Linked DNA regions of Homo sapiens: region 1 is linked to region 2. The links come from fine-mapping of genetic effects on plasma protein levels. Region 2 holds a variant in brackets. A gene starts in the other region. All regions are shown on their reverse strands.

Evidence for each region. PIP is the chance, under the fine-mapping model, that this variant and not a neighbour inherited with it causes the effect. The UK Biobank Pharma Proteomics Project read protein levels with antibody pairs (Olink). The fine-mapping took linkage between variants from a reference panel, not from the people measured, so its PIPs are less certain.
Region 1: CRISP2 starts here. The variant in region 2 is fine-mapped to the plasma level of the CRISP2 protein (UK Biobank, PIP above 0.99).

What each region holds. Positions count from the first base shown.
Region 1 is chr6:49,710,653-49,716,032 of GRCh38, reverse strand. It overlaps CRISP2 (cysteine rich secretory protein 2), which reads left to right and starts at 2,490. Exons shown (of 10, transcript NM_003296.4): 1 at 2,490-2,558; 2 at 3,429-3,532; 3 at 4,712-4,748.
Region 2 is chr20:32,739,088-32,744,446 of GRCh38, reverse strand. It overlaps COMMD7 (COMM domain containing 7), which reads left to right and starts at 980. Exons shown (of 9, transcript NM_053041.3): 1 at 980-1,139. The coding sequence starts at 1,056. RefSeq lists enhancers at 1-429, 1,317-2,144, 2,814-3,315 and silencers at 725-954, 1,135-1,204, 2,189-2,363. The variant T/C (reference allele first, on the strand shown) is at 2,549.

The DNA.
Region 1 (5,380 bases), not on the chromosome of region 2:
TCTACAGCTAAATCTCTATAGTCTTCATCTGATGTATTTCTCCATAGGCCACAAGTGCCAGCAGCTGCACAGATACTTCTCTATTCAGCCAATTCTATCATAATTTTCACAAGAGAATTTAAAGTCTGGTATTTAACTATATCCTATACAGTAGAATCTGCTATAGAGCCTACTATGAGGAATGCATTTCTAATCATTGCTTCTTTTACTCCAAACCATAGAAAAAGGAACTAACAAATGATGCCCTTCTAGAAAAGCAAAGGACTCCTGGCAATGTTCTTAGAAGTACCTGTACTATTCCTCTCAGTAATGGAGATCTACTTTCCATGTGCTCTCCAACACATTCAGGCACCAAACTTACAAGTCTTCTATTCTGGATTTGCCCTTCATACAAAATCTATCAACACTTTTTAAAAATCTCTTCATATTCCACCCTTTTGTCCTATTTCTACTACTACAAAATTAATCTGGGGAATTGTTACCACACTTATTTTTGCTGCCATCAATTTCTCAGCTCTGTAAATCACCCCATGCAGTGAGATCAGGTGGCTTTTATGAAACATTCTTTTGATCAAAGAATTTCCCAACCCTCCAAAATGTCAATGAAATTACTTTCCCATGTTATACAGAGAAGCAAATCTCCTTAGACTTCTATACAAAGTTTCCCCAACCTTTTCAACAGTCTTTCTGTCTTGAATATGCCTTGTGATATAATGATTTATCTGCTTTTGTTCTTCAACTCTTTCTCCCTTCAAATCAAGCCATACGCATTATTCAATAACAGTTCAAATGTCAAAACTTTCCTAGGTTTTACCCAGATCATATCAACTCACAGAACTCTCAATTACTGTATATATTTTTGGTCGCCCTACTTAGCATTAAACTACACTACCTAATAGTATTCTTTACTTATTCATATACATACTCCTTTCTCTCATAGTACTATGAGTCTTAGAAGAAAGAGATTTTATGTCCTTTTTTCTGTATTTTCTAAGAATCTATGTCGGGTCAATATTTACTCACTTAACAAATATTTACAAACTACCACCTATATTTGGTATTGTGTTAGTTTTGGAGATACAGCAATAATCAAGACAGACATAGCCAATTTCTGAAATTCAGGTTCACCAACAATATCTGGCACCACAGCGCTCAAGTTGCTCTCATTCTGATATCATCAATGTGAATATGGGAACAAGTAATAATTACAGGAATGACTCTTCTCCAAAAATGAAAAATAAGATATTCACAGTAAATGATAGACTATTATAGTGCTGAGAATGAATTGTTCGGCACTAGAAAGAAAGAACAAATAGGTAGGCAGAGATTTTGTGCATATAGGTATTTGAAATGTCCAATTAATAACTTAAGCAAGATATGGTGAAAACATGAATATAGAAGTGAGGGACAGATTGAGGACTAGATTTCATAAATATTTAGAAAGGCAAACTGTCAGTAATGAATTTTGATATTGGATGTAGATATAAGCGTTAAGCAGTCTAAATTCCAAAATTTTTAGTCAGTGCTGCATGAACTGAAATAAGCAGCAAAAGAAAACTAAAACAATGTCTGTGTGCTGATCCCTTGAAATTACCTTGTAACACTGCCAAAGGAAAATGGCACTGAGCACCAAGTTTGTTATAGTTTCAGTTGTGCCCAAGTGAGTCTCCAGAGTTGGTGAAATCTCAAGCCTCTTATTGCATGGCTTACAGAGAACCAAGGTATGACGGATATTAATCCTTGGCTTGACATCTTTTGACCCATCTCTCTTCCTCTAGGTCATAAGCGAATTCACTCCTTTTCGCTTTGAAAACAACTGTGAATAGAAGAAAATGCACCTATTACTCATCCGCCTTCTGAGAGAGAAAACATGTCTTTAACCCATGCTTGATACGTATGCTAAACTTGCAGCCAGTAGCCTTGGGTCAGGAGTTCTGCGTATTTTCATAAGAGTTGTTCCTGTTACTCTTCGTGAATTTTCTCACCATAAAACTGTTGCCAACGGGGAAGAGGGACAAGAACATGAAGTGTTTATGAGGGAGCCTGAAACTGACAACCTGTGTAACTGGAGTGCGTCGTTGGCATGACACTGGCAGCGCACTGCAAACTTAAGCACCTGTGGACTCCTAATTAGCTCTTTAAATTGAACTACATTAATTCAGGCATTCTTGTTTGAATGCGAACGCCTCCTTTTTCAAGCCACCCCCTGGGCAACCCGAATCCTTATATGACCTCCCTCCTCCTCCTAGTACGGCGCAGGTATGCGAACAGACATTTTCTTTCCTCATCAACTGGTGGTAATGAGAAAAAGAGAACTCTGCTTTTCACAAGGGAAAACGTGCAAGATTTTCTCCGTAGTAGGGGAGGCGGGGGCGATGGGAGGAGAGCAGCTCACGTAGGCAGATAGCGGCGATGAAAGCATAAAGCCCAGTGACGTCGCCCACACGTGGCGCCTGGCAAGTGAACAATCGCGGTGAGAGGGGCGCGCCGCAGCTCCTCAACGCCGCAACGCGCCGGCCCAACTGCAGGAAGGTCTGTGCTCTGGAGCCAGGGTAAATGTAAGACCCGGATTGGAGACTAGAAATGGCTAGGGACGGGGAGGTGGGGTGAAGCACAGGGGAGAGAACCATCGTTGAGGTGAGGGGGTTTCTGATCCTCCTTCGCTCCTCTTCCGGCATCTGGAGGGCACATAGCTAATGCCGGGCAGACTGAGAGTTCAATTTTGTTGCTTAGCGCCGACCTACCATAACTTTCAACATGCTTCTCTATGTTTAGTCTATTGAAACTCTTTACCTACCTTAAAAGAGAAATCATTCTAAGTACATAAGACCCATTGAATCATAGTAGAAGCCTGAAGTCATTTCTCAATCTGCTTTTTACGAAGTCAAATTAAGACTCTTAGTTTCTAATTGATGTTTTGAATGTACAGTTATTAGAAACTGTAATAACAATTAGAGTTGGGGTCATTGACTCTGCTGGACTTTATATCATCTATTGGCTTCCAGAATTTAAAAAAAAAATGAAGAGACAAAGCTGTTACCCCCAAATCCACGTAGTTAATACTTACCATGTGGGACACTGCTTATGGAAATGATCTTTTAAAGAATGGGTTGAAGTCCTAGATAAGGGGTTGGGAGTCTTGAAAAAAGGTTGCAATTTTCCAAGCAAGTTAGCCAACTAGTAGTTACTGAACTTCAAGAAGTCCACTTTTTTGTTAGTGTTTGAAGGAAATATCAGGGCGTTGAAATACAATCTGACCTCAGAAGGACAATATGGTCTTAACGCTGAAATCAAATAAATACAGTAAATTATTAGAAACAATACTAAACAATTGAGTCAAAATTTAAGTTTGTGACAAAGATTATAGATACCATCTATAAGGGTATTCTTCACATCTTTATTTTAAATATTTTGTTTCCTTGTTCTAGGGTTATAAAATTATACACCATGGCCCTCCTAAAGACACTCTAGGAAAACCATGTCATCCTGATCTTAAAACACCTGCAAGAAAGAGCACAGTACTTCACCATTAGTAAGTAGCAAAGAAAAAAAATGGTAGCCAACTTTTCAACTATATATCAATATGGGTTTAAAGGAATAAAATGTAATTATATGGAATAGAAAAAAATATTTTTCCTTGAATATACTCTCACCAACAGTGACATTGCTTTCATTGACTCAATGAAGATGAGTATAGGTTAGATGGTTGAGGTTATGAGAGAGAAGAGCAGCAAAGAGGAGAGTATGGCATCATGGCCTATTATAGAATTCTGGCTCATCAGATGCATACACTGGGTGATTGAGCTATACAAAACTCTTCAGGCTCCTGTGTATGGCTTTCAATGAGCTGATGAGGATACAACAGCCCAGATGTTAGAGCATTTTCCTAAAGTCAGCCAGAAGGTGTCTAATAGAACCAGGCCTTGAACATGTGAATCTCGAATTAGATTATACTGATTGTATTTTCCTATAACACCTGGAAGGAAACACATGTCTCTTAAACACTTAGTAATTAGCAATTCAATCAAACAGCATATGTTTATAGAAAGCTCTTATGAGCTCAACAAACTAGCAGACATTGCAAAAGATAATAAAAACATGAATAATTTCCGTTTATTTGTATTATGTGCATAATGTGTTTATTGTATTAGAGGTGTTACATACATTGTCCCTTCCAGTCTTCAAAGCAAAAACCTGTGATATAAAAATCTACATTTTACATAAGAAAAACACTGAAGCTTGGCATAGATTTCCCAGACCTGATGGTTTCCAAAGAATGCACCCGTAACCAATAAGCTACAGGTAGTTGATAATTAGAAAGTAAAAATCATAGACAGCTGAACTATGAGAGTTCAGCTATAAGGCAGAATCCTGGTAACCTTCACAGTAGTTAACCTGTCTTGGGTTGTCAATATAGAAATACTAGTCCAAAAAGGCCACATGCAGATTATCGTGTGCCTAAGGAGAAGGGAGAACTGATTAGAAAGGGAGGGCATGATTTACTTACTCATGTTAAAAACTATGTGGGAAGCAAATAATGTCAAAAGCATTATCAGACAACTGACAATGAAGTTTAAGGTTACTGGTATGAAAAATACTACTTCAGAACTTTGTTGACTTAGATTTATTTAACAAAACCAGAGTTTGACAAAACAGGAATATGTGTAATATATATGCTGCTCTAAACCTTCCACCTTCTTTCTTTCTAAAGATAAAGTAGATATTTCATCCTGCTCAGAAAACCAACAGTAAGTGTTAAATCATTGATTTTAATGTGAATATTTTATCATGCCAATCATTTTTATGTTGTCAAGGGTAAAATGATTAATGAGTTTGCCCATGATTTTATTTTTTTGTTTTTTGTTTGTCTGTTTGTTTGTTTGTTTTAGAGACAGGGTCTCTTTCTGTCACCCAGGCTGGAATGCAGTGCTGTGATCATAGTTCACTGCTGCCTCAAACTCCTAGGCTCAAATGATCATCCCACCTCAGCCTCCTGAGTAGCTGGGACTACAGGCACTTGCCACCATGCCCAGCTAATTATGTTTTGTTTTTGTTTGTTTGTTTTTAGTAGAGATGAGGTCTCACTGTGCTTTCCAGGCTGATCTTGAACTCCTGGGCTCAAGTTATGTGCTCTCACCTCAGTCTCCCAAAATGTTAGGATTATAGGAATGAGCCACTGTGCCTGGCCTATCCATGATTTTCAAAACTTTAATAAATTTGTATTGAGAATGACCTCAAGTTAATTTTATTCTTTTACAGTTAAGAAGGTAAATTACAGCAATATTACGCACACACACAAAAAAATTTGATATGTAAAAATTTTTTACATTTTATTCTAAAAATAAGTAATGGAATTAATTCTCATGTTTGTGACTTGAGA
Region 2 (5,359 bases):
TTTCCCTGCTCCAGGTTTCTCGGCATTACCTCTTTACCCTCAAGGCTGGACTTAGGGGCTAGGTGAAGCCCTTAGGCTTGGCGTTCAGTTCCTAGATTCTGGGTAGCATGTCTCTATTTTCTCATGTTTCCAGTGGGGATTAGGGTAATATTCACCTGGGAACTGTGAGGAGCCCCTGGGAAGAGAGGGCATGGGGGTTAGAGTGTTTGAGGGGCTGCAGTGATGATCACGGTCTCAGTAACCTCCCCTCACCCACCTCACCACCACCCTCCCTGCCCCGCACAGTCAAAGCCCTCGCACTATTTTGAGGAAACTTTGGTAAGTCAGTTTCTTCCACTCCAGAAGGTCTCAAAGTGTAGTCCCTGGGTGCTTATTGGAAATGCAAATTCTCAGGCTCCACCCTGGCCTTTCGAATCAGATCCTCTGGGGGCGGGGCCCGGCAATACCAGGTGATGCTGGGGTGATGCTGATGCCCTTCCAAGGTTGAGACCTAGTCTCTACTCTGATGTCAGCTCTCCGAGAGACACTCTGGCCTGCTTTGTTCCCTTCCCTGTCCCCAGTGTCTGGCATCGAGTAGGCTGCCATAAATATCTCTGGAGTGCATAGTAACAGTGATGATGATAATAGCAGCTAGCCATTGATTGAAGACCTCTTGTGTGCCGGTCTCTGCGTTAAACATTTCTGGAGGCTTAACTCATTTAAGGAGCTACCCCAGCCATCATTTTCTCAGATGGTGAAACTGAGGTTCAGAGAGGCCAAGCGCCGTACCCAAAGGTCACTCAGCGGGAGAGCTGGCAGGAAACCTCGCGTCTGCCGGTGCCGGCGCCGCCCCTGCCCCTCCCCGGAGCCCGGCGGCCGCGCGTGTCCGCGGCCCTGCGAGGGCTCCCCGGCTCCGGACAGCCCAGGGCGGCCGGGGGAGGAGTGCGCTGCGACGGCCGTGGCGAAAGTGCGGTTGTGGATGCGCGGAGAGGCCGGCAGCGGTGGCAGCGGCAGCGGAGGAGGAAGCTGAGCAGGGCGGCGGCGGCGGTGGAACCTGCGGGGCTGGGGCGCGCGCCATGGGCCGCCTGCACTGCACTGAGGACCCGGTGCCGGAGGCCGTGGGCGGCGACATGCAGCAGCTGAACCAGCTGGGCGCGCAGGTGGGCCCGGCGGCGGGGCGTGGGGCGCGGGGCCCAGGTGATTCCAGGATCCGGGCCTGGGGTGGGGGGGACGTCCGGGGGTGCGCGGGAGTTGGGAGAGACTAGACAGAGCGGCGTCTTGTGGGCGTTTGGGGTGTGTGAGGTGGGTTCGGGGCGAGGCTAAGGTGAGCTGGGGTCTGAGGAGAGTGTGGGGAGCCAAGGGATCTCCGGAGGCCTAAGGGCCACCTGAGGGGTCCGAAAGGCTTTGTGGGGTCTCAGAGATGGGACTACGGGACCTCTGCGGGGTCCTGGGGCCGAGGAGAGCTTTTGGGGTCCTAGAAGAGGGACGGAGGGGAGTCTAGATGAGGCTGAAGGAGTTTGGGGAACTGAAGGAACAGACTAAGGGCGTGGGGAGTTTTGGGGAGCAGTGGGGTCCAAAGGGAGATAGATGTTTGGCAGGGAGGCCGAGGAAGCCTGAGGGGAGTGGGAGGGCCCGAGAATCTGAGGGGGCCCGGGGAAGCTTGGCCTGGGCTGCCGTCTTACATCTCAGTGTGACATGAGTGTCAGTAATAGCCAGGCCCCACTGGGGCTCTGTGGGCCTGAGGGGCTCGATCTGGGACAAGGCTGATGACACCTTCCACCTCCACCCAGTTAAGGAGAGTCACTGGGATTCACATGGAAAGAAACCTTATACACTGTGTACAGTGGGGGTCTTCATCCTCGATGGTAGGGGAGCTAGCAAAGCCTTTTTCTCCCCCTTCAGGCTGCAGGTGCCAACCAAGGCAGTCTTGGAGGCATCCTGCTTCTGTGCTGGTTGGGATGCCTTTTCATACCACCAAGGCTGCTGAAATAGGTGAGAATGACACTTCTCACCCCCACTGGGAAGATACATCTATTTCCCCCGCTAGGTTGTCACTTCCCAGGAGGTAGCGCCCCTCTTCTTTCATCTCCATACCCCCCACAACTTCCCACACAGTAGTGCTGCTTGCGAGATAAAAACCAAACTTAGAACTTGTAACGACAGGAAGGTTCTAAGCTTGAGCTATGCAATAGAAAAATTTGCAAGCCACATTTCTAACTTTGCATTTTGTAGTAGCCACATTTAAAAATTAAATAGAAATGGAAATTAATTTTTTTTTTTTGAGACGTAGTCTCATTCTGTCACCCAGGCTGGAGTGCAGTGGCGCGATCTCGGGTCACTGCAACCTCCGCCTCCCAGGTTCAACCAGTTCTCTGTCTCAGTCTCCCGAGTAACTGGGACTACAGGCACACGCCACCATGCCCAGCTAATTTTTGTATTTTTAGTAGAGATGGGGTTTGACCATGTTGGCCAGGCTGGTCTTGAACACCTGACCTCAGGTGATCTGCCCACCTCAGCCTCCCAGAGTGTTGGGATTACAGGCGTGAGCCACTGTGCCCAGCCCTGAGTT[T/C]ATCTTATGCAAGCATCCTAGAGTTTATTTACACAAACCTACTGCACCCTAGGATATATGGTATAGCGCATTGCTCCTAGGCTACAAACCTATACAGCATGTGACTGTACTGAATACCATAGGCAACTGGACTATAATGGTAAATATTTGTGTGTTTAGACAAATCTAAATAGAAAAGGTACAGTACAAATACAGTATAAAAGATAAAAAATAGGCCGGGCACGGTGGCTCACACCTACCCTAGGACTTTGGGAGGCCAAGGTGGGCGGATCACAAGGTCAGGAGATCGAGACCATCCTGGCCAACATGATGAAACCCTGTCTCTACTAAAAATACAAAAATTAGCTGGGTGTAGTGGCGGGCACTTGTAGTCCCGGCTACTCTGGAGGCTAAGGCAGGAGAATCGCCTGAACCTGAGAGGTGGAGGTTGCAGTAAGCTGCGATTGCACCACTGCATTCCAGCCTGGGCAATAGAGTGAGACTTCATCTCAAAAAAAAAAAAACAACTTTCTAGTTGGGTACGGTGGCACAGCTACCACAGTAGTCCCAGCTACTTGGGAGGCTGAGACAGGAGGATCACTTGAGCCCAGGATTTCAAGGCTGTAGTGCATGGTGATTCCACCTGTGAATAGCCATTGCACTCCAGCCTGGGCAGCATAGTGAGACCCCCATCCCTAAAAAAAAATTTTTTTTTTTCTGTTTTTGATAAGTTGACCTTAGCCTACTGTCAGTTTTTTTTTGTTTGTTTGTTTGTTTTAGACGGAGTCTTCCTCTGTCACCCAGGCTGGAGTGCAGTGGCGTGATCTTGGCTCACTGCAAACTTCACCTCCTGGGCTCAAGTGATTCTTTTGCCTCAGGCTCCCAAGTAGCTGGGACTACAGGCGTGCACCACCATGCCTGGCTAATTTTTGTATTTTTAGTAGAGACAGCGTTTCACCATGTTGGCCAGGCTGGTCACGAACTCCTGACCTCAAGTGATCTGCCTGCCTCAACCTCCCAAAGTGCTGGGATTACAGGCGTAAGCCATGCACCCTGCCAACTGTAACTTTTTACTTCATGAATGCTTACCTTTTTTTTTTTTTTTTGAGGCAGGGTCTCGCTCTGTCACCCATTGCTCACTGTAGCCTTGATCTCCTGGGTTCAAGCAATCCTTCCACCTCAGCCTCCCAAATAGCTGGGACTATAGGCACGCGCCACCATACCTGGCTAATTTTTGTATTTTTTGTAAAGACAGAGTTTTGCCATGTTGCCCAGGCTGGTTTTGTTAAACTTTTTGGCACTTTTGTAGTAACACATAGCTTAAAACACAAACATGGCTGGGCGCGGATTTCTGTGACAATCACTAGGTAACAGGGGATCTTTTACCTCCATTATAATGTTATGGGACCATCATTTTATATATGGTCCATCATTGATCAAAATGCCATGCATGCTTAAATCCACAATATCAAAATATTTTTCAATATCTTACCCATATACAAATATCAATGACATTTTACTTTTTGGTACAAAGTTTTCTAAATCTGGTGTTTTACACTTACGGCACATCTTAAAGTAGTTTAGCCCTTTTCTTTTTTTTTTTGAGACAGTGTCTGGCCCTGTTGCCCAGGCTGGAGTGCAGTGGCGTGATCTCGGCTCACTGCAAGCTCCGCCTCCCGGGTTCACGCCATTTTCCTGCCTCAGCCTCCCAAGTAGCTGGGACTACAGCTGCCTGCGACCATGCCCGGCTGATTTTTTATATTTTTAATAGAGATGGGGTTTCACCGTGTTAGCCAGGATGGTCTCGATCTCCTGACTTCATGATCTGCCCACCTCGGCCTCCCAAAGTTTTGGGATTACAGGTGTGAGCCACCGCATCCGGCCAGCCCTTTTCTTTTTAAAGACAGTCTCGCTTTGTTGCCCAGGCTAGAGTGCGGGGATGTGATCTCGGCTCACTGAAACCTCCGCCTACAGGGTTCAAGTGAGTCTCATGCTGCAGCCACTCAAGTAGCTGAGATTACAGGTGTTCACCACCATGCCCATCTAATTTTTTCTTGTATTTTTAGTAGAGATGGGCTTTCGCCATGTTGGTCAGGGTAGTCTCGAACTCCTGACCTCAAGTGATCCACCCACCTTGGCCCCCCAAAGTGCTGGGATTACAGGAGTGAGCCACCACCCCTGGTCAGATTAGCCCTTTTCAAGCGCTTATGTGGCAAGTGGCCACTGGACAATAGGGATCTAAGTGCTTTTATGTATTTTTTTTTTTTTTTTTTTTGATACAGAGCCTTGCTCTGTCACCGAGGCTGGAGTACAGTGGTGCAATCTCGACTCACTGCAAGCTCCACCTCCCGGGTTCACGCCATTCTCCTGCCTCAGCCTTCCGAGTAGCTGGGAGTACAGGCACCCGCCACTACTCCCTGCTAATTTTTTGTATTTTTAGTAGAGATGGGGTTTCACCGCTTTAGTGAGGATGGTCTTTATCTCCTGACCTCGTGATCCGCCCGCCTCAGCCTCCCAAAGTGCTGGGATTACAGGCGTGAGACACCGCGCCCAGCTTATGTATGTTAACTAATTGAGTCCTTGCAATCACTTTTATAGGTAGTTGCTGTTATTATTTTAAATTGAGACAGGGTCTCCCTATGTTGTCTAGGCTTGTCTTGAACTCATGGTCTCTGGTGATCCATCTTGGCCTCCCAAGGTGATGGAATTACAGGCATGAGCCACTGCACCCAGCCACTTATTATTATTCACATTTTACAGACGAAGAAACTGAATCACAGAGCAGTGAAATGAACATAGCTATTATACGATATTAATATATTGAGCATGCAC